2 separate regions of the Homo sapiens genome follow, and region 2 is linked to region 1. Evidence: fine-mapped expression QTL. Tissue or cell type: blood mononuclear cells. Region 1 holds a variant in brackets; the other region holds the start of a gene. All regions are shown on one strand. Distances are between the middles of the regions.

The links. PIP is the estimated chance that this variant, and not a neighbour inherited with it, causes the effect.
Region 2: it holds the start of KCNA2, and the variant in region 1 is fine-mapped to the expression of KCNA2 in blood mononuclear cells (TOPMed, PIP above 0.99).

Annotation. Positions count from the first base shown.
Region 1 is chr1:110,637,035-110,647,817 of GRCh38, reverse strand. No RefSeq gene overlaps it. Among named protein-coding and RNA genes, the nearest start is that of KCNA3, 33 kb to the left of the region's middle. The variant C/G (reference allele first, on the strand shown) is at 6,395.
Region 2 is chr1:110,601,761-110,609,760 of GRCh38, reverse strand. KCNA2 (potassium voltage-gated channel subfamily A member 2) reads left to right here and starts at 3,403. Exons shown (of 3, transcript NM_004974.4): 1 at 3,403-3,533; 2 at 4,039-4,370; 3 at 4,816-8,000. The coding sequence starts at 4,979. The coding sequence ends at 6,478.

The sequences.
Region 1 (10,783 bases):
CTCCTTGTAGCCGGTGCCGGTCTACTTATCTTTTATAAGTTGCAAGAAATGTTGCACATTGATATACCACTGTTAAGAGGCTCTCAACACTAGATTGGTAAAACAAATGCAGTCTGAGGAAACTAGCTAATTGTCTCAGCAGTGGAAAACCCTTAAAAACGTTTCAAACTATTGCAGCACTTAAAACTATTTTGGGTTCAACATGACCTCAAATATGTCTCTCTCTTGGAAATTTTCCCTCTTAATTTTGAAACATGAGTAGTGTTGAGAAAATTAATCTGTACTTTCTAGTCAACCACACTTACCTCATCCAGTTGCCGTTTTAGAAGTGTTGTTTATTATTCCAGGAAACTTCAAGGTCCTTATTGTAAGCTTTTTGACTTAGAAACAGGAAATCAGATTTTATCTCAAGTGTAATTTTAAACCACAGTATTTAAACATTTCCAGTAGTTTCCAGACTTCATCAGAGGGCTACTTCAATCTCCAACCCTCTGAAGTATTCCACTCAGATAAGAACTCCTGTGTTTAAACTGTACTGGATTTGCCCATTTATATCTCTGTAGATCCCGGTCAGAATGTCTTCCAGTTCAAAAACATACACACATTCTCTCATTCTTACGGAATCTACTGGAAATTAACATACACAAGGCTGTGGGCATCAAACTTTAGATCATTATAATCATCAAGAACAATTGACTAACTTAGAGTAAGATTTTCATTGCTGATAATTCTAGGCAAAATTCTTACCAAAACTGAAAACATGAATTTTCCTAACTGCATTAATAGATAAAAATGTCAATTATTGGAAAGCAAACCACTAACTCCAAAGGTTGCAAATGGTCTCAATCCTTATTCATCATAATTCCTTTAGGTCTATTAAGGAGAAATTTAGGGAGCTAAAGAGTAAGATATAATTAATGTAACTTGGTGTTGGTGATTTATTCAGTGACAAATTATAAGGCTGCTACTATAACATGCTCCCATGAGCTTAAAAGGAACAAAGCTCTTCTGTTTTAAGGATAGGTTATGATAGCAATTCTCAGATAATTCTCATTTCATCTTTTCCCACTGGTTATCTGTCAACTGAGGAGCCTTTAATCTGGAATCCTATTGTGTAGTTGCTATTTGAAAAGTCTTTTAACATCTCCATGACCCCTAATGCTGCAGAAAAGCTTTGCATTTTGAAAGTGTATTCTTGTCCATCTTAGCCACACTCTCCCATCTCCCATCTGAGTTGTTACTGGTTGATTGAATTGGCATCTGCAAAGGCTGAAGGTGCCACTAAAAGGGCAATTCCCCCTCCACTGATGTCAACATATCTTGATCTGTGGGTCTTTTTGAGAGATGATACAGACCTTGCTTAATAATCTAATAGAAGTGACAATTTTTCAGTACTAGCCTAGAGATAATCCTGCCTGCAAAAAGAAGATGGATTACACGAATAGAAGTCTAAATCCAATTGTGATGGCCTTTCTAATAAAATGAGCATATACAGATGTCCTACCATGCTCTTTGAGTCATGGCTAATCCAGAATTTAAAGAGGAAGTCTACTTCACATTTCTTTCTCTAATTTCACATATTTCTTCACAGTTTGCCCAGTCCTCCAAAGAGAAGCTCACAGTCACTGAGATTTTTAAATCACATGACTCGTAATTGTGAGTCACTGGCTGATTAAGCCTATAAAGTAGCTAAACCTCTCATCTTCTAACATGAGCCTTTAATTCCTCCATTCGGAAGTGAGACTGCAGCTGTTGTATATCACCATTATTGTTAGTTCTTAAAAACATGTCAAAGGTTTTGTTTTGCTTTGTTTAAAAAAAAAGACTTAAATAAGATATTGACAGACATTTAGAGAGGGAAGCAATGCTTTCAAACAGGAGTTAAAATTTCAAGTTAATGTTTTAATAATTACGTCTTCTTTTGGCTCAGTTTCACTTGGATCTTAGTCCCACAATCATGTCTTCAAAATATTCTGAATAAATCACCACCCAAAAAAAAAAGCCTTAACTCTCATTCAGGAAAATGATGAGTTTTACTGGGTTCTAAAAATGTTTCAAGAACAAAATTAAGTGAGTAATCACATTTGACTTATAAAGCAAGAGTAGAGCCTGAATACAATGCAGTCAGGCACCTCTGAGCTTTCTGGCCAAAATAATAAAAATAAAAATAAAAAAAGTATATAGCCTTTCCTGACTTCTCTTGTTAAAATCTCAGAAAAAAGAAGTCTTCTGGCTTCCACTGGTGATTCTTAACCTCATTCTCTCATGAGGGCCCAGTTCTATTAGTATTGGGTAATTCCAATTGGGTAATAACTAAGAAATTGGAGAGCCCCTTCCACTCAACCCACACCTTTGTTTAAAAAGTGTCTTTAGGAAGAGCTGGCCCCAAAAACCTTAAACCTTGCTACTCAATGGTCCTCAGGGACCAGCAGCAGCAGCAGCATCTAAGAGCTTGATAGAAATGTAGAATCTCAGGCTCCACCCCCAACTCACTGAATTAGAATCTGAAGTGTAATAAACTTCCCAGGTGATTTATATGCACATGAAAGTTTAAGTAGCACTACTACCAGATCATTACTGTGTAACCTCACTCAGAGATTTTCCACCTGTGAGCCCTTTGAATGAATAAACAATGTAAGTTCAAATTAAGCTAAAATAATCTGCCTTGCTCCTATATAAAATTTGTTTTTAGAAAGTCCCAAAACATGATAAAGAATGAATATTTTCATTATTGAACACTAAGAATTTAAAAGCTACTCCTTCATTCTACTCTTCAATGTAGTCTAAATGTTTCATTCCATACAAAATAACCCCTCCTAACCTCCTCCACCGGGCCTATCCCTCAACAGCTATAAAACCTTGGTAAAACCTCACATTTGGAATAGTCTTCATGGATGTTAATAAGCTACTAAAATAATAATTCAAATGCCTATAACAAATGACGACAGACACTCTTTTAAGTCCTTGTCTATATTAATTTATTGGATCCTTAAAACAACCCTAAAAGATCAGTTCTATGTTTGTTTTTGTTTTTGAGACAGAATCTTGCTCTGTCACCCAGGCTCTTACTCTATCACCCAGGCTGGAGTGCAATGGAGCAATCTCAACTCACTGTACTCTCCGCCTCCCAGGCTCAAGCAATTCTCCTGCCTCAGCCTCCCAAGTAGCTGGGATTACAGGGACACGCCACTGCGCCCAGCTAAATTTTTTTGTATTTTTAGTAGAGATGGGGTTTCACCATGTTGCCCAGGCTGGTCTTGGACTCCTGACCTCAAGTGATCCACCCGCCTCAGCCTCCCAAAGTGCCCGGAATGCCATATTCAACATTTATATGGTATATTTTACAAGGATGGGGTTTCAGCCCTGTCAACTGAGGTTCTTCATATATGCAGGCCAAGCCCTTCATACATCTTAAACAATATCCTAAAGAACACATATGTCTCCCAAAGTGATTGCTCTGGAGGGCTTCCTCACTTCCTCACTGGAAAGCCATGTTTTAGTTATTAGTATTCTGGTCAGACAGAAAACCTCCCTTGCAGAGCTGCAGTGGAGGGGAATGCAGCTTTGTGCACTATAAATAGTAATTTTATTAAAATGTAGAAAAATTGTTGAGAAAGGAAAAAGAGGTGGGGGCAGAGGGTTGCCATGGCAACTCGACCATTCCTTCAGTTTTGAAAGCGTGGGGAAGACTACAGAATAGTAAATAAAGAAGAGGAAATAGAGGAAGTCGGAATGGCACATGATCACAAACGGAATGAGACAGCTCAGACAGCCTAGTCTCAAACTGAGTGCTGAGCTAAGAGGCAGAGGGTGGGCCTCCCAAGGGAAGAGGGGATGCCTTTCTTCAGAGAGCAAGAAGACTGGCAGAGTGAAATCTTTGTCATCAGCTTTACCTCATGGCTCAGCCACAGAGGCCACCAAACAACACAGCCCCCAACAAATGATTTATGGATAAATGAATATGGAAGCAAGAATCCTCCTGGTAGCCTCCCAAGAACTCCCTCCCTGCCCCCACCTCCATACATATTTTTAGATATTGGTTCTAGAATCTCCATTCTTCATCCCACTCCTCACTCCTGAATGTTGATTGACTCCAGGCAGATCGAGAAAGATCAGGACACACCAGAAATCCACCCATTTACAAGACATTAGATTAATTCACATGCTACAAATTCAAAATATATTATTAAAGGAAACTAGGATAAAAGGATAACCTTAATTCAGCACTTTACAGGTTACTGATCATTACACATTATCCCATGGGATGCATGGAACAGCCCCGGCAATCTGGGATTACTCCACCTTACAGTAGCCCAGGAAACTCTGTGCACAATTCAGACTGAAACAGAGCAACTAATATCTCCTGCATGCAAGAATTTTCCATCTCTCCTGGAGAATGGAATTACTATTGAAGGTTTAGAGGACTTTCAGTCTGTCTTGATCACACATTGTGACAGCTTAAACAATGCACTATCCCCATTAACACTTCAGTATTTGGGGGTGGGGGGTGAGGTGGGGTGGGAGGTGAGGGAGGAGGTGAGAGAGATCCATGTAAATACACATAAGCAGTTCTATGTCATTTCTGTTAATGGAGGGTAGATAAAGAAAAGATCATCCAGGAGTCATGTTTAAGGACTTTGTAATGCATCAAATATATTGGATTGTGTGGAGGCTACTCGCAGACATTTGGGGTAATTTTTAAAGCTTTAAAGGGATAGGAAGAGAAGCTAGTTAAAGAGAAAGCAGGCTGGGATTTAAAAATGTCCCATAGAACCTACAGATTACCGTGCCAGAGCAGCAACCATATTGCCTACATCTGGGAAACAGTGTTGACTCTAGTTCCCTCCCCCAGCTGGACAAACCTCATGCACAGGGCAGAGCTCAAGAACGCTCACATCATGGCTGATGGGATGGGCATTGCCAGAGAGAGAGCAGCTTCACTGGGCAGAGTCAGGGCCTCCTCAGACTGGGAGAAAATGAAAAATGAGATCAAAGGTTCTGGGTGAGGTTCTGGGTGAGGTTCTGGTGATCCACTTGATCACCAGATCCAGGGACGTTGTTCCTGAAGAGCATTCCCTGAAGCTGAACACTTGGGAAGTAAATTTAAAATGAATGAAAGGAGCTAAGTAGTCAGCATATGAAGTTTATTGCCCAAAATGTGTTACAGATTACAATGTAAACAGGTTCAAATCACCTTCAGGTGAATTCACATAGAACAAATCCAAAATAAAATATTAAAGAAAACTAGTATAAAAAGATAACCTCTGGCCGGGCACCATGGCTCACACCTGTAATCCCAGCACTTTGGGAGGCCAAGGCAAGTGAATCACCTGAGGTCAGGAGTTTAAGACCAGCTTGGTCATGGTGAAATTCCATCTCTACAAAAATACAAAAATTAGCCAGGCATGATGGTGGGTGCCTATAATCCCAGCTACTTGGGAGGCTGAGGCAGGAGAATCACTTGAACCCGGGAGGCAGAGGTTGCAGTGAGCCAACATAGTGCCATTGCACTCCAGCCTGGGTGACAGAGCGAGACTCCATCTCAAAAAAAAAAAAGATAACCTCTATTTAGCACATTCCAGGTTACCAAGTACTTAAATACATCTCCATAGACATTCAAAAAGGTAGACATTAGGCGATCATCACAGAGAAGAAAATTGAGACTTGGAGAAGACAGAACATGAATCCGAACTGTACACCAAATATTTTGGTCTGATATTCTCAGTATTCTTTGTGTTTACTGAGTTTGGGTGTGGGTAGGATAGAGAGTCCCTGATTAGGATGACTTAGCTACAAAGTCAAAATTAAAGAAATCTGTGGTTCTGGACTGTATATTTGCAGTTTTGACTGAAGGGTTTCATAAAGAGCACCAATGTTCACAACTGAGAATTGTGAAACCACAAGTTGCAGGGTTTCCTGTATTTAAGTCGACCATGCAGTGGTACCATGGAACCCATTTCTGCCAGTCATGAAATGCTGCCTTTCTCCTAGCATTATTACCATCTTCCCTCCCTACACACACACACACACACACACACACACACACACACACTCACAAATGCACTAAACCTCTCCTTTCTCTTCCCTTTTCTCTTTTGTTTAGTCACACACGATCTTTCACTTCTACTTCAGTTGCATTTATCCACTCAATGCAAGTATTTGAGCATCCATCCAGCTAAATCTCAGGGCCCAGAATGCCAAACTGTTCCCTCCAAGACTGCACTACCGACAGCCGAGAAAAGCTAATAGTGATGATAGTTAATACTTACTCAGCACCTACTCACAATGCACAAGGCACTGGGATAATAACTCCTTTGCATTCAGATTCCTCAATAGCTCACTCAGTCCTTACAACAATGCAAAAACCTTGAAAAGTGTTACTATCCCCATTATA[C/G]GATGAGAATGTGAAGCAGAGGGGTCATAACTCACAGGAAGTCGTGTGGCTAGTGATGGTGCAGTTGGAGAAGTGCGTGCTTCTCCTCCTTCATAACCATTGCCTACCCAACATTTTAAATATATTTGATATTGTCTAAATTGTTTTCCTTAAGAATAAATGTTTTATATTGACATATTTTAACTGACTCATATTTGGTTCATAATCAGGCAATTCTATTTTATAAACAGTCTCAATCTTTGTTTTCTTACTGATCCATTTATATACACCCTCTCACACTCCGCATTTCTGCTACTAATACCAATTTCTTTTTTTCTTTTTTCTTTCTTTCTTTTTTTTTTTTTTTTTTTTTTTGAGACAGTATCTCGCCCTGTCACCCAGGCTGGAATGCAATGGCACCATCTTGGCACACTCCAACCTCCACCTCCCAGGTTCAAATGATTCTCCTGCCTCAGCCTCACGAGTAGCTGGGATTACAGGAGCCCGCCACCACGTCCAGCTAATTTTTGTATTTTTAGTAGAGACAGAGTTTCACCATGTTAGCCAGGCTGGTCTCCAACTCGTGAGTTTGTGATCTGCCCGCCTCGGCTTCCCAAAGTGCTGGGATTACAGGCGTGAGCCACCTCACCTGGACCAACTTCTTAATATTCTGGCTTCTCGCAGCCATCTAGCCTCTTTCTCTAGTTCTCTTTTCTGATCTTAATTCATGCATTAGGAAGATAGGCAGGACTGAATGCGCTTGGTATCTCATCTCTTCCCTTAATTCTACAAAGCCTCTCAGGTCTTCCCACAACCCTTTGCTCTACCATGCTCTCTCACTCTGCCCATCCCAGAACTCTATGCAGATGGCTCTTCCAGGTCACCAGCAGCCCAAAAGTAGCCTTTCCTTGGGTCTTACCTCCTTGACTTCTCCATCTTTTGGCATCCATCACACTGAACTGCCTTGCTTCTCCTCAGTAGCAATTATTCCTCTTCAGTCTTCTTCAAGGCTCCTCTCAGCTGCCTTTCCCCTCCATGTCCTGTCTCCCAGGCTCAGCCCTTAGTCCTTCTTACTTCTCCTATAATTTCTTCTCAGGCCATCATATACATTCCCATAGTTTAACTCTATTTGCCACTAACTCCCAAATCCATATCTCTATTCTTAGCCTCTCTCGCTTTAGCTCCTCCATTTCCAACAATCTGCCAGTCATTGCCACCAGGATGACTCACTGGAACTTCCCATCCAGACTGTCCAAGTAAAGCATTTTCTTTCTCCAGTGATTTGGCCCTTTCTTCTGACTTCCCTATCTCTAGCAGATACCATCATGCAGATAGTCACCCAGGCAAAACAAACAAACAAATGAACAAAAGTTGTCGTCTTTCATCCCTCCATCTTCCTCACTTACTGTAGTCTACTAGTTTTAAAATATAAAAAGATTCTACTCCTGTTCAGAAAGCCTTCAGTGGCCTTCCATTATCTGTTGATGAAGTGCCAACTCACCCTGCCTTTGCATCCCACACTTTCCAGTGATAGCCCAACACCCTTTCTCACCCAAGCTTCCTCCAACCAAAATAGACTCTGTCCTGTTCTCAAATATATGCCAAGCTTTTCTGCCTTTCTGTTCTGATGTATGCTGTCCCTGATATCTTCTTCTCCAACACTCAAAAGGACTTTCCTCTCTTCTTACAACTTAGGGTCTTCCTGAGTATTTGTGATATTTATCATGTTCTACTCCTTGTTTTTATCTGTCTGTTCCACCTCCTGAGGTAGAGGATGGGCTCCATACTTGAAGCACCTGTTTCCCCACCACACTTACATACCTTGTGCACAGCAGATCCTCATTATACTTTTGATGAATTGAATTCAGTTGGGGCTCAGCAGCTGTGTAAGAAGAACCAAGTTTCCAGGACCCTCTCCTCTCCTGAAACCAGGCAGATATTCTATTACTTGTCCCACTTTCTCATCTTAAAAATGGGCCTCTGTTTTTCCCTTATGGTCTGAACATCTACCGTTTACCTCTGCAAGCAGTGAAAAGTGGTCAGATCTTTGGAACAATAGTCATAGCTACTGAGCACTGCCCATGTGCCAGACACTGTTTGAAGCGCATACATGTTTTAACTTCTTTAAACCTCTCAGCAAACTTGTGAAATAGACACTGAAATTCCCATTTTACAGATGAGGAAACTGAAGCACAGACAGGTTAAGTGGCATGTCTAAGCATAAACAGCTAGTATGGAGGGAACCAGATTCTCAGGCAGGCCCCTGGCTCCAGGGCCTATGCTCCCACCATTTTGCTATAAGGAAATGCAGATTTGAAAAGAGGAGATTTTACTTGTAGGTCTTGATGACCCCAATCCCAAAACCCAGAGCCTGGTTTGGTCTTCACAGGTTTGACCTAATGTGTACATATGTGTATCTGATTGTGAGTGTATGTGCAGTGGAATTAGGGGAGAGCCACCTGTCTTTGCACTCTGCTCTTTAGCTGGTGTTGTTGTGTTTGACGTTATTTCCCCAACACAAGCTTCCTGGAAGAAGACGGTATCTTCCATGATTTTACTCTCCCACTGGAGTCTGATCTAGCGCTTGTCATCTAGCAAGCGACCCACAAGTTTAAGGCTGAATCACATTTTCACATATAAAGTCAGTGCCCAAGCCATGTCTCTCATTTGAAGCTTCTGTTGTCTGCCCCCACTTCTCCCAGCCTCCTGACACACACCCACTCTCTCACAGAGCAGGTGCACTTCAGCAGAATGTAAGCAAATCAGTGCTGAATGTCAAAACGGATTTTACTCAATTATTAAATTGCGAGAACCAGGAGAAGAGCAAATAAATATCCCAACAAAGTTATGCTATGAAATATGTGAAACCCACCCAGATCTAATATTTAATTTAGACTCAACTGTCTCAACAGCTTTCTACCATCCCAGATTCCAGCCAAAGGCCATCAGACATGGCTTGGGGTGAAAACTCGGTAGCTATACAGGCCTAATGCAAAGACCAAGGCTGAATGATGGGCCACCCCTCAGGGACAGGTGCCCACAGGCCAGAGGCTGAAAAGCTTCTCCAAAGATGCCAATTAGCTCAAGCACAAGAACCAAAGCCTGAGCTCTGACATCTGCATAAGTCAGGCTGCTGGGAGCTTTGCCTAATGATTCTGCAAGAAGAGGGGCTCTGAACCAGCATCTGCCTCCTGCTGCCCAGCTTCCTCAGCCAGCCAGAAGGGAGATACAAGCACCACCTAGTGCTGAGGTAAGGGGACCGGTCATTGACAGCTGCTCACTGGCTGTGATGATATTTTAAGTATCAAGGCTACAGTGAATGCCGAAGAGGAGAGGGGAGGGAGAATAGAGGAGTGGAGAAGCAGCAGGGGAAATAGATTCAGAGCATGAATTCCCAGCTCATTCAACTCACCCCACTGCACCCACCAGTCCTCAGCACTGGTGTCATAGCACCATCCTCAGAGGCCAGGAGGCTGGCTTCCTGCAGCCTCCAGGCCTGGTGAGCCCTCCCTCTCCCCCAAGCTTTTTCCCAGCCTGTCTGGCAGACATGCGGCATGTACTGCTGTGCTCACGGCCAGTAGACCCCTGCTTCCCCTCCTGTAGTGGCTCTCTGAGAATAAGGATGTGTCTGCCCTTGGCTCAGCATCTCAAGCACATAAAGCAGATTCTGCTTCCAGAACCAGAAAATACATGACAGTTCAAGACACAGAACTGACTCTCTCAGTCACTCCATGCCGCTCCAGCAGAGGGCTTCTCAGGGGCCAATGGAAACCAGCCACCAAAGGCTGTCTCATCAGGCTGAGTCCAGACCACCCGAAGGGAACCCATACCACCCAGGCCCCACCCAGGGGCAGACCCAGGACCCAGGCAGGTCCTGAAGTGCTGGACCACTCTGTCACAGAGCCAAAGTATGGGTATGGGTTTAGCTGTCTCCCATGGCTGCTCAGCCTGCAGAGCCTACTGAAGGGCCTATCCAGCTACCAAGGGAGGACATGCTGCCAGTGAGCTCCAAGGAGCCCTGCAGCAGAGCAGGAAGGGGCAGGGGAATGCTCCCACCCACCATCAGCTAGGGCTGGAACTCCAACTCACTCTGAGCACACTGCAGCCTCCCAAGTGGATGTAGGTTACTCTGGATGTAGGTTACTCCAGGTGACACATTCTTTTCTACAAAATTTCTTTCCAGATCAAATCTAATTTTATTTTATTTTTATTTTATTTTACTTATTTTTGAGACACAAAATATTTTACTTATTTTTGAGACAGTGTGTTGCCCACACTGGAGTGCAGAAGTGCCATCACGGTTCACTGCAGTCTCGACCTCCCTGGGCTCAGGTAATCCTCCCACCTCAGCCTCCCAAGAAGCTGGGAATACAGGCATGGACCACCATGCCTGGCTAATTTGGGGTTTTT
Region 2 (8,000 bases), 37 kb after region 1:
GTGCCTAAACAACTGTTATGATGGTTCTTTTTTTTCCCCCTTCTTTAGTTAATTTCTTTTTTTGTCATTGTTCACATTTAAGTTTAAAGGATAGAGACAGGACAACATACCCCTGAGGCCAAGTCACAAAATAGAAGCAGAGGTCAGAGGAAGATCTCAAAGAGGGAAATGAAATTCAAGAGCTGCTCATTCCACCTGCACAGTGTGGTGTGGGGGCTAAGGGCACATGTCCTAGAATCACAAAGACCTAATTCCAGTCCTAGAGTCACCATTTATTAACCTCAGGCAGGTGATTTCACCTCTCACTGCCTCCATTTCCTTTCCAATGAAATGGTACTAATGTATACATTGACTTCTAGGGCTGTGAGAATTAAATGTTGCCCTGGGTAAGAAGTGCTTAGCACAGGGTCTGACACATGGTAAGCCCATGTCACCAATTATGACGATTGATTTTCCTTCAAGGGCTTTTCTCTGTCCACAGCTTCTGTTTTCAAGAAGGAAGGCAAAGGAAATGTATACATATGATCAGATGGATAGAGTATCTGACTTTGGCCACACAGGATTATCTGACTTTAAATGACACGAGAACCCAGTGTGCCAAATAGGAGAAACAGAGCCCCTTGGTGCTGGTCAGGGGAGGCTTTCAGAAGGAGTATATAGGGAAGGGAACTGGAGGTCAATTTGGTAGAGGGGTGGGAATGGTGAGATCTCAAGGAAAGTAAAGGGCGGGGCAATCTGGGAAGCAGAGGGAATGGGGCAACAAGGACCTGGTGATTGGGAGCCTAGAGAAACACCCCAGAGCTAAGCTGGAAGCTAAGAGCTATGAGGAGAGTTTCACAAGGAAGCAGAGCAGCGAAATCATCATGCATTCAGTGTCTGCTGGATGCTAAACTCATTCAACAATTAAAACCTCACCACACCCTTAGGGGCATCCTGATTTTTCAGAGGAGGGCACTGGTGCCCAGAGAAGTGAAATAACTTATCTAGTAACTGTTAGGGAGTTACGTTTCCATCTGACTGCCTCCAAAACACCCAAGCCGTTCACTGACTGGGACACTAACAGGCCAGGTTCAAGGTGCTCTAAACCATACCAGCCCTTCTCTATAGTCATCTGTCATCCTTTGGGCCCACGGAGGTCACTGCCCTCCCAGACCACCCCCTGCAGCTCTAGGCAGGCTCCCAGTCTTCAACCACACCTCACAGACTACCACGATGAAACGCCAGAATCCGGAGTCCCGCTTCATGGGCTTTCAGGGCTCTCCCCACGAGGTACACGCATAGAGAGGAGGGTTTCCCGGCCGGAGGGTAGGGGGGAGGGCCCAGTGGGGACTTCCTGGTGCTAGAGCCCATCTGAATCCAGAGCTCCGTGTCTACCGCAGTCTTATCTCAAGGAACCACCACTGTTTGGCACACCTGTCTAGGTGACCCTGACAGGGACCTGGAGAACAGAACTAGCAGGGGCTTGAGGCTGTCGTCTGCCTCCCAAAAGCACCCTGGACCTTCTCGGATGCCCTATCTAGGCAGAAAGTAGGCTGTGCCTCCCACACACATTTCCCGAAAGCAAAGGGCATCCTCGTCTGCCCACCTAGGGTGCTGTAAGCTGCACTCCTAAGTTCAGAGCCCTGTGGGCCACCTGGCTTTGCAAGTTCTGCCAGAGGGCCCGTTTTGTGAGTAGCTGACCATTCCCAAGGGCAGCGGCGTGTCCCCCAGCCTTCCCTGCCCGGGCCCTGGGGGAGGGAGTCGGGGAGTGGAGAGGGCCAGCCCTGCAGTGCTGCCTGTTCCTGCGGCTCCTCTCGGTGGGGGCGAACACAGCAGAAGAGTTTCTGCCACACTGCGGACCGCACCTGCTGCATTTCCCTGCGAAGCCAAATCTTTGCTGGGTAACAGGGAGGTGGGAAGCCGATCTGGAGAAGGGGTCGCGCTGGCGGGAGAAAGGGCAAGAAAGGGGTCTGCAGATCCTGTCTGGAGGCACCACAATAATAGCAACACGTCTCTCCCGGGGCTGGATCCCGCTGTGGGCCTGGGGTAGCTGCTATTGATTATCTCCTCCTTGCCTACTTCATTACGTTGGCAGGAGCCTCTCACCAGTGCCCCTCAACTTCTGCCCTCCCCCATCTCCCCGGCCCGGCAGCACCCAGCTGAGCTCTCCTGGAGGTTCTGGTTAGTAAGTCGGGCTCTGCCAAAGAATGTTTTCCTCGCGGGGCGGGGGCTGAGGCCCGGGGGCCCAACGAGGTGACGAGCTCGGTGGCGGCGGAGGGCAGCTTGTCGCCCCGGCCCCGGCCCCGGCCCCCGCCGGCCCCTTTAATTCGAGTTCGCCGTCGAGCCAGGTGCGGCGCTGCGTGGCGCGGTGCGGCTGCGGGCGGCGGCCGGGAGCTCCGTACGCGCCGCCCGCGGGACTGCAGAGCCGGCTCCCGGCTGGCCGCCCGCACCCCGCCGCCGCCCGCTGCCGGGGTTCTGCCGGCGCTGGCCGTAACCTAGGAACATGGAGGCCCCGGTGCCCATCCGGAAGGGTAAATCCGTGTCGGGGCGTTGCGCGGCGCGTGCTGCCTTCCCTGCCCGGCTGCGGCGCCCAGAGGGGCTGCGGGGCACCCGGCGGCGCAGCCTGCAGCGCAGCAGGCTTGGGCTGAGTCCGCGGCGGCAAGCCCTTGCCGACCACTGCCGTCTGCTCGGCAGGTCCCAGACCGGGGAGATCAAGGGGAACTTGCACCCTGCTCAAGAAGAGTGCACAGAATGGGCTCGGGACCCTCTGGGGTTTGCGTGGCGCGGGGCGGAGGGCACGGAGAGGAGCTGGTGGGTGGTGGGAAGTGCAGCTGGCAGCATAACCATGTCTGGTAAATAGCGCGGGTTGGTAGGACCTGAACCACTTGGGACGGCCGGGCTGCATTCGCCTCTTCGGCACAGAATAACAAACGGCTTTGCTGCAGAGAGGGCTTTCCCCTTCGCTGGGGCCGTGGGCTGCCGCCGAGCCCCCGCGCTTAAAAGGAAGCTGAGATCTGGGGCGGCAGCCTGGCGCAGGCTACTCCCCACCCCCAGAGATCAGGTTCCGGGATTTTGGGTTGGACACTGAGCCTCGGCGGTCCCTCGGCTGGACGCCGGGGGCTTAAGAGCTGAACTGCGCTTGGGCCCGCAGCAGGAGCCGACCGCGCGGGCAGGAGGGGGTTAAGGTGGCGCTAGCGGCCGCGGCCAGCGGGAGGGTCTGGTCCTCTGCGCGGAGGCGAGCGCTGAGTGCGCCGAACGGAATCCCGGCCGGAGCCCGGGGCGATGGGGAGAGGGCCCAGACCCCTCCCCGCCCTGGGGCCGGCGGGATTGGGTCGGCAGGGGGCCAGTCCGGAAGCCGGCTTCCTCCAGGCTCCCCCTCTCGCTGCTGCCAAGCCGCCTCGCAGCTAGGCAGGCGGAGCGTTTATTCTGTGCTCCCTGCCGAGGAGATGTGAGGGATTTTCTCTTGGGGGAGAAATCAGTGGTCGAGCGCCTGCCCAGCTCAAATGCCACCCGGCTCAGAGGGAGGCCTGCGGCCCAGGGATCCCGGAGGGAGAGTAAGTTCATCCAGTTTTCGTACAGTGCAGACTTTGTTGTGTGGGGTCTCCCTAGATGCGCTCTGAAGGAGTGTGTGTGCTGGGGGGTGGGGTGCTTCTTTTCCAGGACTGGCTGAGGTCAGAGCTTGTAGACAGGCTGCAGTGAGCTAAGCCCTCCTCTTGGGAGCTGCTGTGTCCTGACATGTGGGGGTAGGAGTGCTTCTTCCAGAGTCCTTCCTGAGAGCAGCTGGGGACTAGCAACCTGGATCAACCCAGGGAGGCCCCTGGAGAAGGCAGGCCCAGCCAAGCCTGAGTCTTGCTCCCTGGGAGAAAATGCTTCAAGCTGATGGGAAGCCTGCCCAGAAGAGGCAAGGAGGCTGAGGGATAGTCCTCAGGCCTGGCATCAGAATAGAGGATGGGCATGGGGGCCTGTTACCTCCCATGAGGGAAGCTGCCAGACCCTCCTAAATCTTGGCACCAGCTGGTTCAAATGCCCTGGTTCCACCTTGCTGCTGTTTTTTTCCAGGCAACGTCACACCTCCTGAGGACAGCCAGGACTCCAGCTTTTGCTGAGCTTTGCATCTTGCCTCCTTCCTTCAAAAGGCTCCAGGCCCATGCTCGGCTGTCTTCAAGTCCCGCATGCCCCTGGCCAGGCACCTCACCGCCCCTCCAGCCCAGCCCAATCCTAGAGCTCACCTCCAGGACCCAGAGTCTGCCCTTCTGCCCAGAATGACTCACCATTATTTCTAGCTCGAGTGAGAAGACGTGATGAGGAGTTGGGCTGCCTGTTGGTGCATCTCAGATTCCTGCAGCATCTGATCAGCTCTGCAAGGAAGAGAGCTTCACGTCTCTGGTCAGGTAAATCAATCTATCATTTAATAACAGCCTTGTGTAGAATCACTGGGGTGGAGGCCAATGAGAAAGACCCAGGCCCAAGCTCCCCAACCATGAATACCTCCCTGGGTATGAGTATCTGAGACATTAGTGCAGCACCTGGGAGAGGGTCCACTTTTAACCTATTAGCATGGGGTTATGCTCCATGAAGCCTGTGTGCTACAAGCGGGCCTGTACCAGCCACCTTCCCCCAATGCAGGGCATTCCAGAGGTTCCTGGAGAGATTGCTACCTGCTCCCCCTGATCCCCAGACAAGTTACAAGGTGAAAGTAAATTTTGCTTTGTCGTTGTGGTGGTGGTGATCATGTGTCTGAACTCTTGGCTGAGAGATGGGAGACAAAAAGTGGCAACCCAGGTCAGGCTGCCAATGCTGAGTAGCCTCATGTCAATAACTGCCTCTGTCTTTCAGCCAAGCGAGGCTGTCTCTCCAGCTCTCAGAGAGCTCTCGGGGCTCTCCTGCAGGAGACCAGGCCAATGCTCCTGTGCTTCCTGGGGCCAGTAGCAGCACCCTGAGCTCCCTGCCACCAGGCAGCTGAAAGGCATAGCGTGAGGTGCTTCTCTCAGTCCCAATTATGACAGTGGCCACCGGAGACCCAGCAGACGAGGCTGCTGCCCTCCCTGGGCACCCACAGGACACCTATGACCCAGAGGCAGACCACGAGTGCTGTGAGAGGGTGGTGATCAACATCTCAGGGCTGCGGTTTGAGACCCAGCTAAAGACCTTAGCCCAGTTTCCAGAGACCCTCTTAGGGGACCCAAAGAAACGAATGAGGTACTTTGACCCCCTCCGAAATGAGTACTTTTTCGATCGGAACCGCCCTAGCTTTGATGCCATTTTGTACTACTACCAGTCAGGGGGCCGATTGAGGCGACCTGTGAATGTGCCCTTAGATATATTCTCTGAAGAAATTCGGTTTTATGAGCTGGGAGAAGAAGCGATGGAGATGTTTCGGGAAGATGAAGGCTACATCAAGGAGGAAGAGCGTCCTCTGCCTGAAAATGAGTTTCAGAGACAAGTGTGGCTTCTCTTTGAATACCCAGAGAGCTCAGGGCCTGCCAGGATTATAGCTATTGTGTCTGTCATGGTGATTCTGATCTCAATTGTCAGCTTCTGTCTGGAAACATTGCCCATCTTCCGGGATGAGAATGAAGACATGCATGGTAGTGGGGTGACCTTCCACACCTATTCCAACAGCACCATCGGGTACCAGCAGTCCACTTCCTTCACAGACCCTTTCTTCATTGTAGAGACACTCTGCATCATCTGGTTCTCCTTTGAATTCTTGGTGAGGTTCTTTGCCTGTCCCAGCAAAGCCGGCTTCTTCACCAACATCATGAACATCATTGACATTGTGGCCATCATCCCCTACTTCATCACCCTGGGGACAGAGTTGGCTGAGAAGCCAGAGGACGCTCAGCAAGGCCAGCAGGCCATGTCACTGGCCATCCTCCGTGTCATCCGGTTGGTAAGAGTCTTTAGGATTTTCAAGTTGTCCAGACACTCCAAAGGTCTCCAGATTCTAGGTCAGACCCTCAAAGCCAGCATGAGAGAATTGGGCCTCCTGATATTCTTTCTCTTCATAGGGGTCATCCTTTTCTCTAGTGCTGTGTATTTTGCAGAGGCCGATGAGCGAGAGTCCCAGTTCCCCAGCATCCCAGATGCCTTCTGGTGGGCAGTCGTCTCCATGACAACTGTAGGCTATGGAGACATGGTTCCGACTACCATTGGGGGAAAGATAGTGGGTTCCCTATGTGCGATTGCAGGTGTGTTAACTATTGCCTTACCGGTCCCTGTCATTGTGTCCAATTTCAACTACTTCTACCACCGGGAGACAGAGGGAGAGGAACAGGCCCAATACTTGCAAGTGACAAGCTGTCCAAAGATCCCATCCTCCCCTGACCTAAAGAAAAGTAGAAGTGCCTCTACCATTAGTAAGTCTGATTACATGGAGATCCAGGAGGGTGTAAATAACAGTAATGAGGACTTTAGAGAGGAAAACTTGAAAACAGCCAACTGTACCTTGGCTAACACAAACTATGTGAATATTACCAAAATGTTAACTGATGTCTGATTGAAACCTATTACCGTACTCACAGCTCAATGGAACTAATGCAGATGTTGCATAATAGCCTGCATTGTAGTCAGTGTGTTCTACAGTGTGTATCTGGTTCTGCATGGAAAGCAATAGTTGTGCAAGTGACTTTTGATCTTTTGACTTTTGATTTAGAACACAGAATATCTATCATGGCTTTCATGCACATCCTCATCACCGGCTTATGAACTTCCAAAGACGGGAGTCACCTATCAAGCTAGGATTTCAGATAGACACGTTGAGGCCACCTCATATCCCATACACAGTGCACCATATCAGTGCCATCATTCCTTCCTAATGAAATGCACACAACATCCAAGAGATGCACTCCCCTCCCCACCATCCCACCACCTTATTTGAGCCCACCTGCCCTTTCACAGAGGAACACAATCATGGCTTAGCTTTAAATAGCTGGTGTTTGTTCAAAAGGTCATACTCATTTTTGCATTGAAAAGAACACACAGTCCTGTGTGTTGGAATTACTTTCTGTGTCACAGGCTGGAGTTTGTGAATTGCAGTTGCCAAGTAGATGCTCTGGAGGCTTGTGTTTCATAACGGAAAATGCTGCATTCTGCTTTTTCTCTGCAGTGTCGATGTGAGGGAAGCCCGGGGGAGGGACAGTTAGTATGACCGAATATGAGTTGTCAAGTTTCACATTTGTTCCCTTAGGCCTATGGGGAGAAGCTAACAAACCAACAGACCTCTAAGCCTCTGATTTCACCATTTTTGCAGGCTCCAGGGTCACAAAAACATGTCTGGTTTCTTACTGGAGTTTGCAGACATCTGCTTTCCCACTGATGTGGCCCAGCTACACTGACACTGCAGTGAAATTTACCAGTGATGCAATAGAGCTGCATGGGTGTTTGTTGCATGAATCTCAATATTTAAAACACAGGAGATAACCTATTTTCCTAGTAGCCTACACAGTGTTAATATTTAGAGTATTAATAGGCTTGGAATGGTCTTGAACTAGGGGTTTTTTTCCCATCAGAAGGCAAAAATCCCTCCATCAGGGGAAAAAAAATAGACTATTTGGAATGGAACTAAAACTTCTGGCCCCCCAGCCTACCTATCCCTGTTCTTCTAAACAGGAACGCAGACCTCTGCAAAGCCAGAAGAGTAAGCGGGGAAGGCAGCATCTGAACACCTCACATGACTGCACCTTAGGAATTAACCTAGTCGCGGGCATGACTGTACAGTGGACCAGGGCATCTGGTCCTGATGACAGGCAGGTCTGTGGATCCAGTGTATATAAATATATATCGAGTATCTCTCTTTCACGCGTTCCTCTACCTAGCTAGTGATAGAAAAGAAATTGCATTTGAACATTGTACAAGCTTATGCAATATTTTTGACAAAGGGCAATTTATGCATGTGTTTGACTATGTGCACTAGGGTGTATATATATACATACATATGTGTGTATATGTATACACACACACACACACACACACACACACACACACATATATATATATATATATTCATTTTCTGGAGTTCA